Linked DNA regions of Homo sapiens: regions 2, 3 and 4 are each reported to be linked to region 1. Evidence: microRNA targets listed by miRTarBase, many of them from high-throughput screens and not tested one by one. Region 1 holds a microRNA gene; each other region holds the end of a gene's coding sequence.

Evidence for each region. The annotated mature microRNA hsa-miR-16-1-3p reads CCAGUAUUAACUGUGCUGCUGA and lies in region 1 at 2,036-2,057, opposite strand. An mRNA with a match to its seed (bases 2 to 7 or 8) in the 3' UTR can be bound and repressed. Matches are read on the target gene's strand: a 7mer-m8 pairs with bases 2 to 8, a 7mer-A1 pairs with bases 2 to 7 and ends in A, and an 8mer does both.
Region 2: the mRNA of WDCP is a reported target of hsa-miR-16-1-3p. Seed matches in the 3' UTR shown: 7mer-m8 at 1,219-1,225.
Region 3: the mRNA of CHMP2B is a reported target of hsa-miR-16-1-3p. Seed matches in the 3' UTR shown: 8mer at 1,319-1,326.
Region 4: the mRNA of SLITRK4 is a reported target of hsa-miR-16-1-3p. Seed matches in the 3' UTR shown: 8mer at 2,140-2,147 and 7mer-A1 at 16-22.

The regions. Positions count from the first base shown.
Region 1 is chr13:50,046,950-50,050,148 of GRCh38, forward strand. It overlaps MIR16-1 (microRNA 16-1), which reads right to left and starts at 2,112; the gene lies at 2,024-2,112. DLEU2 (deleted in lymphocytic leukemia 2) reads right to left here. Exons shown (of 14, transcript NR_152566.1): 6 at 2,635-2,713. It overlaps MIR15A (microRNA 15a), which reads right to left and starts at 2,252; the gene lies at 2,170-2,252.
Region 2 is chr2:24,028,162-24,031,407 of GRCh38, forward strand. WDCP (WD repeat and coiled coil containing) reads right to left here. Exons shown (of 4, transcript NM_025203.3): 4 at 1,186-3,001. The coding sequence ends at 2,772. Among named protein-coding and RNA genes, the nearest start is that of WDCP, 18 kb to the right of the region's middle.
Region 3 is chr3:87,253,243-87,256,480 of GRCh38, reverse strand. It overlaps CHMP2B (charged multivesicular body protein 2B), which reads right to left. Exons shown (of 6, transcript NM_014043.4): 5 at 2,971-3,077; 6 at 925-2,769. The coding sequence ends at 2,659. Among named protein-coding and RNA genes, the nearest start is that of POU1F1, 22 kb to the left of the region's middle.
Region 4 is chrX:143,626,192-143,629,191 of GRCh38, forward strand. SLITRK4 (SLIT and NTRK like family member 4) reads right to left here. Exons shown (of 2, transcript NM_001184749.3): 2 at 1-3,000. The coding sequence ends at 2,404. Among named protein-coding and RNA genes, the nearest start is that of SLITRK4, 8.4 kb to the right of the region's middle.

The DNA.
Region 1 (3,199 bases):
CTATGCAAATACACTCATCTTCTCCTGAACATCATTTTTAAGTTTAATGACTTTAAAACACTACAGATAAGGAAAAGAACGTAAATAGAGCATTTCTGTTCAGATTTTTGTTGTTGTTGCCGTTAAGATGGAGTCTCGCTCTGTTGCCCAGACTGGAATTCAAGTGATTCTCCCGGGTTCAAGTGATTCTCCTGCCCCAGCCTCCCAAGTAGCTGGGATTACAGACGCCCGCCACCACACCTGGCTAATTTTTTATTTTTAGTAGAGACAGGGTTTCACCACATTGCCCAGGCTGGTCTCGAACTCCTGACCTCACATGATCCACCTGCCTTGGCCTGAGATTACAGGCATAAGCCACCACCGTGCCCGGCCTTTTGTTCAGATTTTAATTAAATTAGGCCAGGGGTGGTGGCTCATGCCTATAATCCCAGCACAGTGGAAGGCTAAGGCAAGACTGCTTGAGCCCAGGAGTTTGAAACCAGCCTGGGCAGCATAGTGAGACCCTGTCTCTATTTTTATTTATTTATTTAGTTTTAATTTTTACATTTTAATTTATTTTTTTGAGATGGAGTTTCACTCTTGTTGTCCAGGCTGGATTGCAATGGCGCGATCTGGGCTCATTACAACCTCCGCCTCCCCGGTTCAAACAATTCTCCTGCTTTAGTCTCCCGAGTAGCTGGGACTACAGGCATGTGCCACCACGCCCGGCTAATTTTTTGTATTTTTAGTAGAGATGGGGTTTCACCATGTCGGTCAGGTTGGTCTCGAACTCCTGACCTCACGTCATCCACCCTCCTCGGCCTCCCAAAGTGCTGGGATTACAGGCTTGAGCCACTGTGCCCAGCTCTACTTTTCTTTTCTTTTTTTTTTTTTGTTGAGACAGAGTCTCCCTCTGTCACCCAGGCTGGAGTGCAGTGGTGCGATCTCAGCTCACTGGAAGCTCCGCCTCCCAGGTTCATGCCATTCTCCTGCCTCAGCCTCCCGAGTAGCTGGGACTACAGGCGCCCGCCACCACGCCTGGCTATTTTTTTTGTATTTTTAATAGAGATGGGGTTTCACCGTGTTAGCCAGGATGGTCTTGATCTCCTGACCTGGTGATCCGCCTGCCTCGGCTTCCCAAAGTGCGTGAGCCACCGCACCTGGCTGTCTACTTTTATTTTTAATAAAAAATTTTAAAAATACAAAAAAGTAAAAAAAAAAATTAAATTATGTTGACATTTTATATCAATAAAACTACAATGATAATTTGGTCTTACTCTGAGTTAAATCTTGAATACAAAAAAGTAAACAAAGTAAACAAGACCTTATTTTTGACTTATCAAACAAAAATCTTTGGCTAAGGATTTAAGAAAACATTTTAATAAAAACATGAAAAAAATAGTATACCATTATAAAGTTAGAAGACATAAGACTAAGACCCCAATCTGTGATGTGTAGCAAATTATTTGAGTTTTGTGTTTCCTTAGCTATCCAATGAGTGGGTTGGTCACTTGTAAGGGTTTTTCTACCTTTAAAGTTATGGTTAAGTGTGACGTTTTGACAACCAGAATTTTAGGTATTTAATTCACATATTTTGATGGCTTTTCCCCTTCAGATATAAAGAAATATTCAGAAACAGTACTAAATATTGTCTTCTAAGCTCTGTTCAAAATGCTTAATATATTTTATATTTATCTGTAAAGACATATTTTAAAAGTAATTTCAAAACAAAGGGAAAACTAGAATTTGTTTTATCCCAAGTAAAAATCTGAATTAATGTCTATGTTGAATATAAATGTGCATTAAAATAAATTCCTCTAATGCTGCATAAGCTTTTTAAAAAAACTTGATGGCATTCAATACAATTATTAAATTGCAATTACAGTATTTTAAGAGATGATACATCTGAAAAATTAGTATTAATTCATTTTTACAGAATCATACTAAAAATAACAAGATTATCAATAATACTGAAAAGACTATCAATAAAACTGAAAACACATTAGTAACATTAATATACATTAAAACACAACTGTAGAGTATGGTCAACCTTACTTCAGCAGCACAGTTAATACTGGAGATAATTTTAGAATCTTAACGCCAATATTTACGTGCTGCTAAGGCACTGCTGACATTGCTATCATAAGAGCTATGAATAAAAAGAAATATATTTTCTTCAGAAGATCAGATCCTTGTATTTTTGAGGCAGCACAATATGGCCTGCACCTTTTCAAAATCCACAAACCATTATGTGCTGCTACTTTACTCCAAGGTTTTATTTTTTTTAAACACACATTCGCGCCTAAAGAATATAAAAAATATTTTCTTTCAGGAAAAAAAGAATGCATGTAAAAAAATCTATGTTTAAACATTATAACATTGATGTAATATGCATAATTATTTTTAAGGAGATTTTAAGTAGAATAATAAAACATTTCTACATCAAAAACTTAACTGAAGTCCATTCTGTGCCCAGCACAGTGCTATAGGTTAGGAAACACAAAGAATAAAATGAGGAAAAGAAAAGCATTTATTTGCTATGCCAACTTAACAGGGCAATACAACTAAATGCTTAAACTTTTGAATATATTCAATATATGAAGTTATTTTTCCTTGTATAAACAAACAAGTAAATTTATAAAATTTGATCTTTACCTTGGTAAAAGGAGAATTTACAAACATTTTGTTCCTTGCAGTACACCTTTCAAAAGACATCTTCATCAAATAGGTAAGACTTCACATCAAGGGAAAAACATGAAATGACATACAAGAGCTCAGTTTCAATAAACTTAAGCTAGCAAAATGCAAATATACTTTTAAAGAAAAATACTTTAATTCTAAATGTTAATTTTATTAAATATCTAATTAAGACATTTTAATTCCAAATATAGTTAAGAAAAAAAGCTCTAAACAAACTAATTCTCCCTTAAATAATTTGTTATTAATAATCTAAATATTTTACTTTCAACATTGATCTTCATACTAGAAGTTCTCTTAGAGTTGGATATCATTTGATACAGTAATTCTAAAATATGAATCCTTAAGTAATTCTAAAATATGAATCCTTGGGATGATGAGTTAATTTGGTACCCTGAGATGAGAAATAAAACAAATCCCATAGCTCTTAATCTTCCTATTCCCTGTTTCTGGCCCATTTACCAGGTAAGGAAGAAACTCCTAGTTTCCACTTTCTCAGATGTAGAAATGAAATTCCTTTTCT
Region 2 (3,246 bases), not on the chromosome of region 1:
CGGGAACACGAGGTCAGGAGTTCAAGACCAGCATGGCCAAGATGGTGAAACCCCATCTCTACTAAAACTACAAAAATTAGCCAGGCACAGTGGCAGGCGCCTGTAATCCCAGCTACTCAGGAGGCTGAGGCAGGAGAATCGCCTGAACCCAGGCGGCAGAGGTTGCAGTGAGCCAAGATCACACCACTGCACTCCAGCCTGGGCGACAGAGAGAGACTCTGTCTCAAAAAAAGAACACAAAAAACCTGGCAAATGAAATTTACCACACAGAGCAATGCAGAGCATGAAGTCAGGAACTCTGCAGAGGGACCCCTCAATTATCCAGCAGAGGCTGGGCTCAGTGGCTCATGCCTGTAATCCCAGCACTTGGGAGGCTGAGGTAGGCAGATCACTTGAGATCAGGAGTTTGAGACCAGCCTGGCCAATATGGTGAAACCCCATCTCTACTAAAAATACAAAAATTAGATGGGTGTGGTGGCGGGCACCTGTAATCCGAGCTACCCAGGAGGCTGAGACAGGAGAATGGTTTGAACCCGGGAGTTGGAGGTTGCAGTGAGCCAAGATTGTGCCAATGCACTCCAGCCTGGGCGACAGAGTAAGACTCCGTCTCAAAAAACAACAACAACAACAACAAAAACCCCCCAAACAAATAAAATTATCCAGCAGAATACTGATTAAAGACATAAATATGAAGACAAAACTTCCATAAAAAGGAAGATAGGTAAATGTGTGGCTTCCTTAAAATTAAAATGTTTGTCCAACACACAAGGTATAAAGAAAGAGGAGGCCGGCAGGAGTTCGAGACTATCCTGGCCAACATGGTGAAACCCCGTCTCTACTAAAAATACAAGCATTAGCCAGGCGAGGTGGTGCATGACTGTAGAACATTAAACAATCCTTTGAAGAATTTAGCTCTTTTCTCCCTGCCTCCAAAGCCAGCAAATATGAGATTATTTTCTATTGTTCCAGTGACTGTAATAATAGCAGAGGTCAAGGAAACATCTCTTGTATGAGAGTTGTCATGGAATCAGATTTGTTGTAAAGAACCATTTATATTCTGGACTGTCCACCAGAAGAAGGAATACAGACAACATATGCATATATAACTGCAAGATTATTGCCGGTTCCTCTATAGCAGCAATAATCGCAAAGAAAATACTACCAAAACATCCAAAACAGCCACAATAACCATTAGTGATTTTATTGAAGACTTATTCACAGTATTTTGACCTGAGAAATGGTGATTTTAACATACCCTTTTAGGTGCCCACATTGATCTTAGTTAACAGTCTTGTAGTTCCCTCTTTAGGCTTCAAGATAATTGTGATTTCATCGCACCCCAGATACTTCCAAGTGGAGCCAGGCCTCAGACTGTTCTCAGTCACTGCTCTCCCACAGCTGATTACAGACATTGCCTGTGCTTCCTACCCCAGCAGCTGTCTAGTGCACTTGAACCACAAAATGGGCCCTCACTTCTTTCCTAACCCAGCTCCATCTTGGTAAACTGTAACAGACAGACAGGAGTCCCCAAGGGCACAAAATAGTTTCTTTCCAGATGATTTTAAAGGAAGGGGGGAAAAGGAAGCATATGTGCTAATGGAGCTTCTATGGCTGAAACAATTTATCTGCAGATGCCTAGCCACTCACTGATCAATTTGTTATGCGCCGTGACTGAAATCTGTGATTCCATCTGAAGGCAGTGAGAAGTGGTGTTACCATCTGAAGTGGGTCAGGGCTCTTACCTGACTAAGCTGGTACTTTAGCCCATAAGTGAAACAAAATGGCACTTTTTAGGACTACCTCAGATTCGGTTGAATTTCTAACTTCCTGAAATACTTTCTCTCACAGATTCTCTGCTGGTCTCTAAGACTTAAAAGGAGAGAAAATAAAAATATCAAATTAAAGTGACAAGTTAACTAAGGGAGCTGACTACTGGGAGAAAAATAGGAAAGTTGCGTGATCCCAAAACTGGATTTAAAAAAAAAAAAAGTTATTTCAGGGACACTCATGAGTGGCCACAGCACAAAATCCTGCAGTAGGACTTACCTGGGCTCGACAGTGTGGTAGCAGCATCGGCACAACCTCAAGTGGAACCCAGAGGGGACAAATTCCCTTGAAATTTCATTCAAAATTTTCCCAGGGCCAGTTTTTAAGAGTACCTGGACCTTCGTCAGCCAGAATTTGTTAAGGAAGCAAGAGGGTTTGGTTTAAATTCTGGGAGGTCCAGGCAACATCAGAGCCACTTCCTGTTCCTGAGAGCAGAAGCCAGTGGGTCTCTGGTCCTCCTTGGAGCTCTGCTAATTCTTGCTGGTTTGAGGTTAATATGCTAGAGCACATGCCCCCCAGCAGACTCCTCAACCTCCTCTTGAAGCCAAGAAAAAGACCTATAACAATGCCAAGGTATCTTTTAAGTGCTCCTAAGACAGCTTCAATGCAGCTTTGGACAAGGGACACAAAGCCTCAGAGAAACCATAAAACACCATCCATATGGCACCATAATATTGTTTTGTTCTGAGAATTCTGCCCTTAGTCAAAACCACACAGTCATGAATACATAAACACCACTTTCGGAGCCATCTAATAAAGACTGAGCTCTGCTACACAGCAGCGAGCCTCAGCTCAGGGGAAACAGGGGGAAACCAGGAGAGCCGACCATGGCAAGCGCTTCGCCTGAGTGCAGTGGGAGTCTCATTGGCGAGTGTCCAGTGTCAAGCAGGCCTTGTTTGTAATGGTCTCATCTGAAGAGCTACACAGCAAGGACACTGCAGATATCAAGCCATGCCATCTACATGGTTACAACAGCCAGTGGTATCTAAACTGGGGGCAGCAAGGCCTGTAAAGACTTTAAGAGAAGAAACAGCACCTGGACTGTGAGAAAAAGAGTCTCTGAAGACATCTGACCTGGACAGGCTGCCATCTCTTATGATTATTTCCTGTGTGGCTGTGAAGGTTAACGGGATAAAGCCCTCACTGTCAGCAGAGAGAAGAATCCAGTGGGAATCTGCAAATAAAAATAAATACACAGGCAATTTAGTATATATTATTCTTATGATGAAACATATGACTACAAATTTTTTTTTCTGAGTGAAGGAATATAGTAGTTGATAATATTCAACTCAATCCTTGTAAGATTTTACAGAGAATGGGGTATTGGGAAGACTGGGTATTACTTAGGGTCAGGTAGGAGAAAAAGGGGAAAAAATGAAATGATATTTGATGTTCAATGTGGTGGCTACTGTTACAAGA
Region 3 (3,238 bases), not on the chromosome of region 1:
TTCAAATGCAAAAAGTAAAAGATATATCACTGTGCAAGTCAAACAACATAAAGCCCATAGGCTGACAGCTTCCTCTCTCTGGTCCATAGGGTCACAATCTTGAGCCCCTTCCCATTAGCTCTTGCAATAACCAGATACTCCCCTCAGAGCACACAGTACAGTGTGTGCAACATAATCATCTGACAGATGGTCATTTTATGTTTTCTAAGAACAGGTGTTATCATGAGTATTGACATTTTCGTATGACGTTCTACTTCTCTGGTACTCCGAAATTTCCCCCATAAATAACTTTTTCATTTGGTAACAAAATGTGGCTTTGGGCTGCATCCTTTTCAGTCATAGAGATACTCTTCTATTCTTTCTATGGCAACCTCTTGTTTGATTACAGCAACCTCTTATTTGATTACAATTGTTAAATATTTATTTTTGTGCCTAAAGAAGTTAGAAAAAACAGGTTAAAAAAAACCCAGTGTTTTCATTAAGCTCAATCTATAAGAACCCTTATTTCTTATTCTTTAAGGGCTCAAAAGTAACTTTCCTTTTTAGCAAAGGATAGAATAACATTACAAATTCACAGTGACAGTGATTGTGAAAACTACCACCAGAACACTTTATAAATGTAGCCAAATCAGAATGATCTCTCTGTCTTTTATGTCCAAATTCTTTTGTGGTATCCATGTTTGACTGAAATGAAATAAGTCACTGGGACTTATACATTCAAAAATAAAACTTAAAAATGTTTAATCCCTGAGAATACTGGGAACAAATTAATGTGAAACCACCAATTCTTAGGCTTATTACATTCACAAACATTAGTCTAGTACAAATTATTTCTTAAGAAGATAGTTTTTTTTTTAATGTTAAGTAGCAGAGTTTATCTAATTGTACTTCTAGGAAAATAATAAAGATCATTCTTTTGAAAAATTACCAAATATGCATAAAATTTTTAATTTTAGCAGGAACCAAAAAGAGCAAAAAAGGTAAGAAAAGAACAACAATAATAAATCTTTATTGAGATTTTTTAACAAAATAATTTTTGAAAACAAAAGCTCCCACATGTAAACAAGAACGTAAATAAGTTAGATGGCATTATTATGTACATTCAAGAATCAAAACATGTTCTGGTAAACATTCCATAATCCGGTAAAATGTTTTCACCCATCACTGTTAAGAGAAACTGTGTATTTAATACTATCAATAACAAAACCTAATCTTTGAACATTATAAAATGGTTTACGGAATATAAACTATACAGTTTAGTTTTTCATTCCTCCTAGCAATCCGTGTCACATGTATACTAGTCCTAAGATGTATTTTGTCAGTATTAGCCCAAAATGTCCACCATCCCAAATTAACCAGGTTACACATATCTCCTCCAGTTTTTATGGTAGGATGTGTTAGAACCCATATATTACAACATCATTTTTCAAAACTAACCTAATCCTAAATTCTATTCTAACTAGTCTGGCAATCCTTCATTTTATCTCCCTGTCTACACATTCATTAGATACCAAGGCAATTTCACCTTAAAAAATACTGCTAATACACATTTAGATAGTAATTTCTGGTAAAACTGTAGTTTATTTATCAAAAAATGTGAATTTTTATTTTAGAAATGTAGGTCAAGCATTGTCATAGTTGTAGTACTTAATTGAGAATAATGGCTTCAATTTGGAAGATTCAATATACACATTAAACAAAATTAAACAGTTTAAATTATAATTCATATAATTATAATTCTCATTTTTAGATGGCCAAAATATATTGTTTTCTTACTATAAAGTGTTATTTATTCATCGTCTATTTTTACTAATTATATTCAATTCACAGTAGTGACATCAAAGGGACAAGTCATCATAGGTCTGAGACCAGGAAAACCTGGTCTGTTTTAACAGAGGCGTGTCTAAAATAAGAGTACATATTTCAATTAGGCCCACAGAGATAGAAAAGAGCCAGGATAATCTTTGTATTGAGGCCTTGATTTCAGTTTTAAATGTAATTCTTTTCTGCCAGCTGAAATAATTTAAAGATGTGCACAATAGGTCTGTGCTATTTAAGGCAGGTGTCAAGCACATTTTGAAATTTACCAACTAGAATGTTCTCCTAATGGAAAAAGAAAAAAGAAAAGTTATGACAGTTTTTGTTTAAGACAGATGTTTAAATAGCACTCTTCTTTTTGACCATTTAAAAATAATTTGGCAGCTGTAACCACCTATGGTCATAACACATAATCACTTACAAAAGACAAGCAACAGATACAGAATTAACGATATACTTTTAATATTTTTACAACCCTCTTTAAGTTGGTGCCTAATGGCATTTAACAAGATTTTTATATTCAGTGAAAAAGATTTAGAACATAAACTGACATGAAGTAAGGAATATAATTTCTCTGTGCCATGCAAAAGAGAAGTCAACTTTTTACACATCATCACTCCTAAACAGTTCTAATTAAAATCCAAACTGTTCCCATTTTTGCATCATTGTCATTCTTTGGCAAAAGATTCTAAATAGCCATGGGTTAGGAAACAACTGTTCACTCATGGTCTTCATTTTTTTTTTTTTTGCAAAATACATGTGTTTTGTAAAAGAAATCTGCACTGTGCTTGGTTTATACTACATAATTATAAGTAAGCAAAATAGTATGACTTCTTTTGACTAATCTACTCCTAAAGCCTTGAGTTGCCGTTCAATCTCTTCATCTGAGATTGTAGCCTTTGAAGTAGAGGCAGATGGTAAGCTTCGAGCAGCTGATGGAGCTTTGGCCATCTATATTAAACAATGAAAAAGACAAACGTGCATTAGGAAACATTTGGACTAGGACATACAGGATGTGCTGTAAAGAGGTCTGTTTAATTTACTTTTGAAACAGAAATAAAAACCATGCACCTCCTAGTAAAAACAAAACAATTAAGTGACAAACGTGGTAGGCAGAAACTATTTCCAACTAAGAAAAGATGATGTTCATACCTTTCCAGAAATTTCAATTCCAATTTCATCAAGAACTTGATTCACAATATCCTGGCTTTCTTCTTCGTCATCAGAACCGTCAAAGATGTCATCAAGTGTATCATTGACTAGGGGATATGGGAGAAGGAGCAAAGCAGTTACTTTCAAACAAACTTCAGGTTAGACTTACATATTTACAGTCTAGCCCAACTATTTTGTATATTACAGAAGGCAAACTCAGTGAACAAACTAAAAAAATCCTTCAAAATGTCAGTGAAGTAAATTGATA
Region 4 (3,000 bases), not on the chromosome of region 1:
TGCATCTTTATCCTGTCAGTATACATTAGGAGCCCTTTAATCCATGGATGTGTGCATGCATGGTAATGGCATATCAAAAGTCCTTATGAAATTGTAGATGAAAAAAGCTGTTGGGCACACATCTTGTCTTTTCTTTCAAGATCAGAAAGCAATTATTTGTTTGAATTATTTTATATTCATATAAAGTTTTCACAGATGTCATAAAAATTAAAATTACACACTAAAGTTTTAAGAGCACCAGCACATACACATGGAGACGGTTTTTGCTATTTAAAAAAGATTTCCAAATTATCTATATGTATGAATATATACCCACATATATATATATACACACACTCAGACACACACACACATACACACACACCCAAGAAAGCCAAGCTTCTTTTTTTTGTCTTGCAACAAACACATAAAGCCCTGAAATTAGTGATTAATAAAGGAACAGCTACTGCAACTATAAACATAGTATCATTTTGGAAGCTGCAACAGAAAAAATATGCCACTTGCAATCATGAGGAATGGCTATGTTTACCTTCTTGGTTATCTTACTGATTCATAAGGTAATTATAAGAGATAGGACACACACTCTCACACATGCACACACACACACTATATATATATGTATACACACACACATACATATATGTATATATATACACACACATATATATACACACGCATATATATATACACACACACATATATATATATGTATATCTATATATATCTATATATCTATATATATATATGCAGGCAGGCCAAGAAGACAATGTGTTTCTGAATATCACTTTGTTAATCGGGAGCTCCTACAAAAGTTCCGACATCACCCATTATCAGTTACTTTATTCCTTTAACAAATTTTGACTTAGATCTTAGCAAAAGCAAACACAGGGGCATATCATTTGTAGTTGCAGACTGTGAACTCATCTGAAACCAATGCAAGCATTTTTACAGTGTGGCTTTCATAGCCAAGATTACCATGATGTTTACAGTTCTACTAGATTATCTGATAGTAGTCTGAATGATGAAAGAACAGGATACTGATGCATACAAGATATAACTATTAACCTTATTCATTATTTTTTAAATACTTGTAGCGAAAACTATTTGAATTAAGCTCATAGAATCCTGAAAAGCAAGACAACCGATGGCAAATAACAACTGCCCCAGACACAATACTAGAAAACTAAGGAACTTATTTTTGAATGCACAATTGGTAACAAATCTGAAGATAATACGCTAAATTCACAAGAATAGCACAGAATTGACTGTTCTTTTGTATTTTTTTCTTTTCTGTTTGTTTTAAATTTTTTTTGTTTTTAAGTTACACCTGATCACAAAGTCCAGAATATTTCTGTTCACACCAGCTTGTTTCAGTTTAGTATATTTCTTTCTGTCTACATTTATACTTACTGATAAATTCACTGTGATCAGGAAAACAAGTCAGGCATATTAAATACATATTAAGGAGTACATATTTTCCTATTTAGTATACAAAGTACTTCATAAATATGAATTATGTTACAAAAATAGCTTTGGGTGCGCTCACACAGTAAGCACTCTGCTTATTTTGGACAACCTTGAAGGATTGTGGGTGTTTCACGTAACTGAGAACAAACTCTAGTGTTAGTTTAATTTGAGCCATGTTTAATTCTGATAAACGTCACATATTTCTTCAGATCATCACAAATGCTATCTAACTCACGTTGATTTTTTCTTTTAGATTTTTATGTATAGACAGGTAATGCTTAAAGTGTTCAAATTTATTTTATAGTTATGTAATGTATGTTATATTTTAAACAAGTATTTGCACAAATTAACATTATAAATCCAGCGGTTTCAAGATGCAGGCCATAAAGGTTACCAATTTACAAATACTATCGAGTGTTCTCTCTTTGCATGCTTTTTTTTTTTTTTTTTTTTTTTTTTTTTTTTTTTTACTTTTCAGATAATCTTTACACGGAGTTGTTACAATGCCACAAATCAAAAGGATTATTCCAGTTCCACCAACTTAATCTACGTGCAAGATAAAGGACCCAGCTGGTACAGGTGTACCAGTTTTCTTGAGTTTGCTTTACAAAGCACAAAGAGACGAAGGTTTTGCATTGGGGTACAAAACAGATTTGCCTCTTGAGGTTAAATTCAGTATTATGTGTATAAAGCATCCCTTTGGCAATAGAGTTTGCAGTATCCCCACAGGACTCCACAGTATAGGTTTTATGTAGTAAAATCTATTAAACAAATTCTCTTCTACTTGACACATCTTTGCAGCTACAGTTAATGAGACACCCTTGGAAACACCTGCCTCCATGCCTATTGATAATATAGTATTTGGAAGTTAGAAGTCAACAAAAGGCACTTTCATCATTAAATAAATGTCCTCTGTATGAAGTAAGATTACATGACCTAGATCTTGTTCAAAGCTGTTTGCTCCTCAAGGACCTGTAGGTAGTCAGGGGAACTCTGCAGTTTCGCCTTCAGTTCAAAATACTCACTCTTCCTTTGTTCCACAACAATTTTACTGTGGTTGCCACCTATCAGTGACTTCTTACTTTTTTTGTCTGGTTGTTTTTCTGGATAGCGGATCTCAAAGCCACTGACACCTATGCTATTATACTCCTTTTTGCTTTCAAGAAAATTCTGAATAAACACATTGGAATCCCTGCTAGGGAATAATTCATCCAGCTCATCAATTGTGCTCAGTCTCTTCCTGGTATCTACATGTAATAAATCTTTCTCCTTGTCGGCCACATTTCTCATAACAACTTTCTGTCCTGGAGGATCTGAAAACATGAACCCAGTTTCTGACTCTTTCAAGCCACAAGTGTGGCTCTTGCTCATCTGTTCTATAGTTTGTGGAATGAAAGCTTCTGTGCTCAGTCCATCTTTTTTATTGGTTTTGTGGTCATGCTTCCTTAGCTGCAGCTGCATGGAGCCACAGTCAGGATTCCCCAGGCCTTCGTGCTTCACTGTGGGTTTCTTGTTGCGTCGCAGGACAAAAAC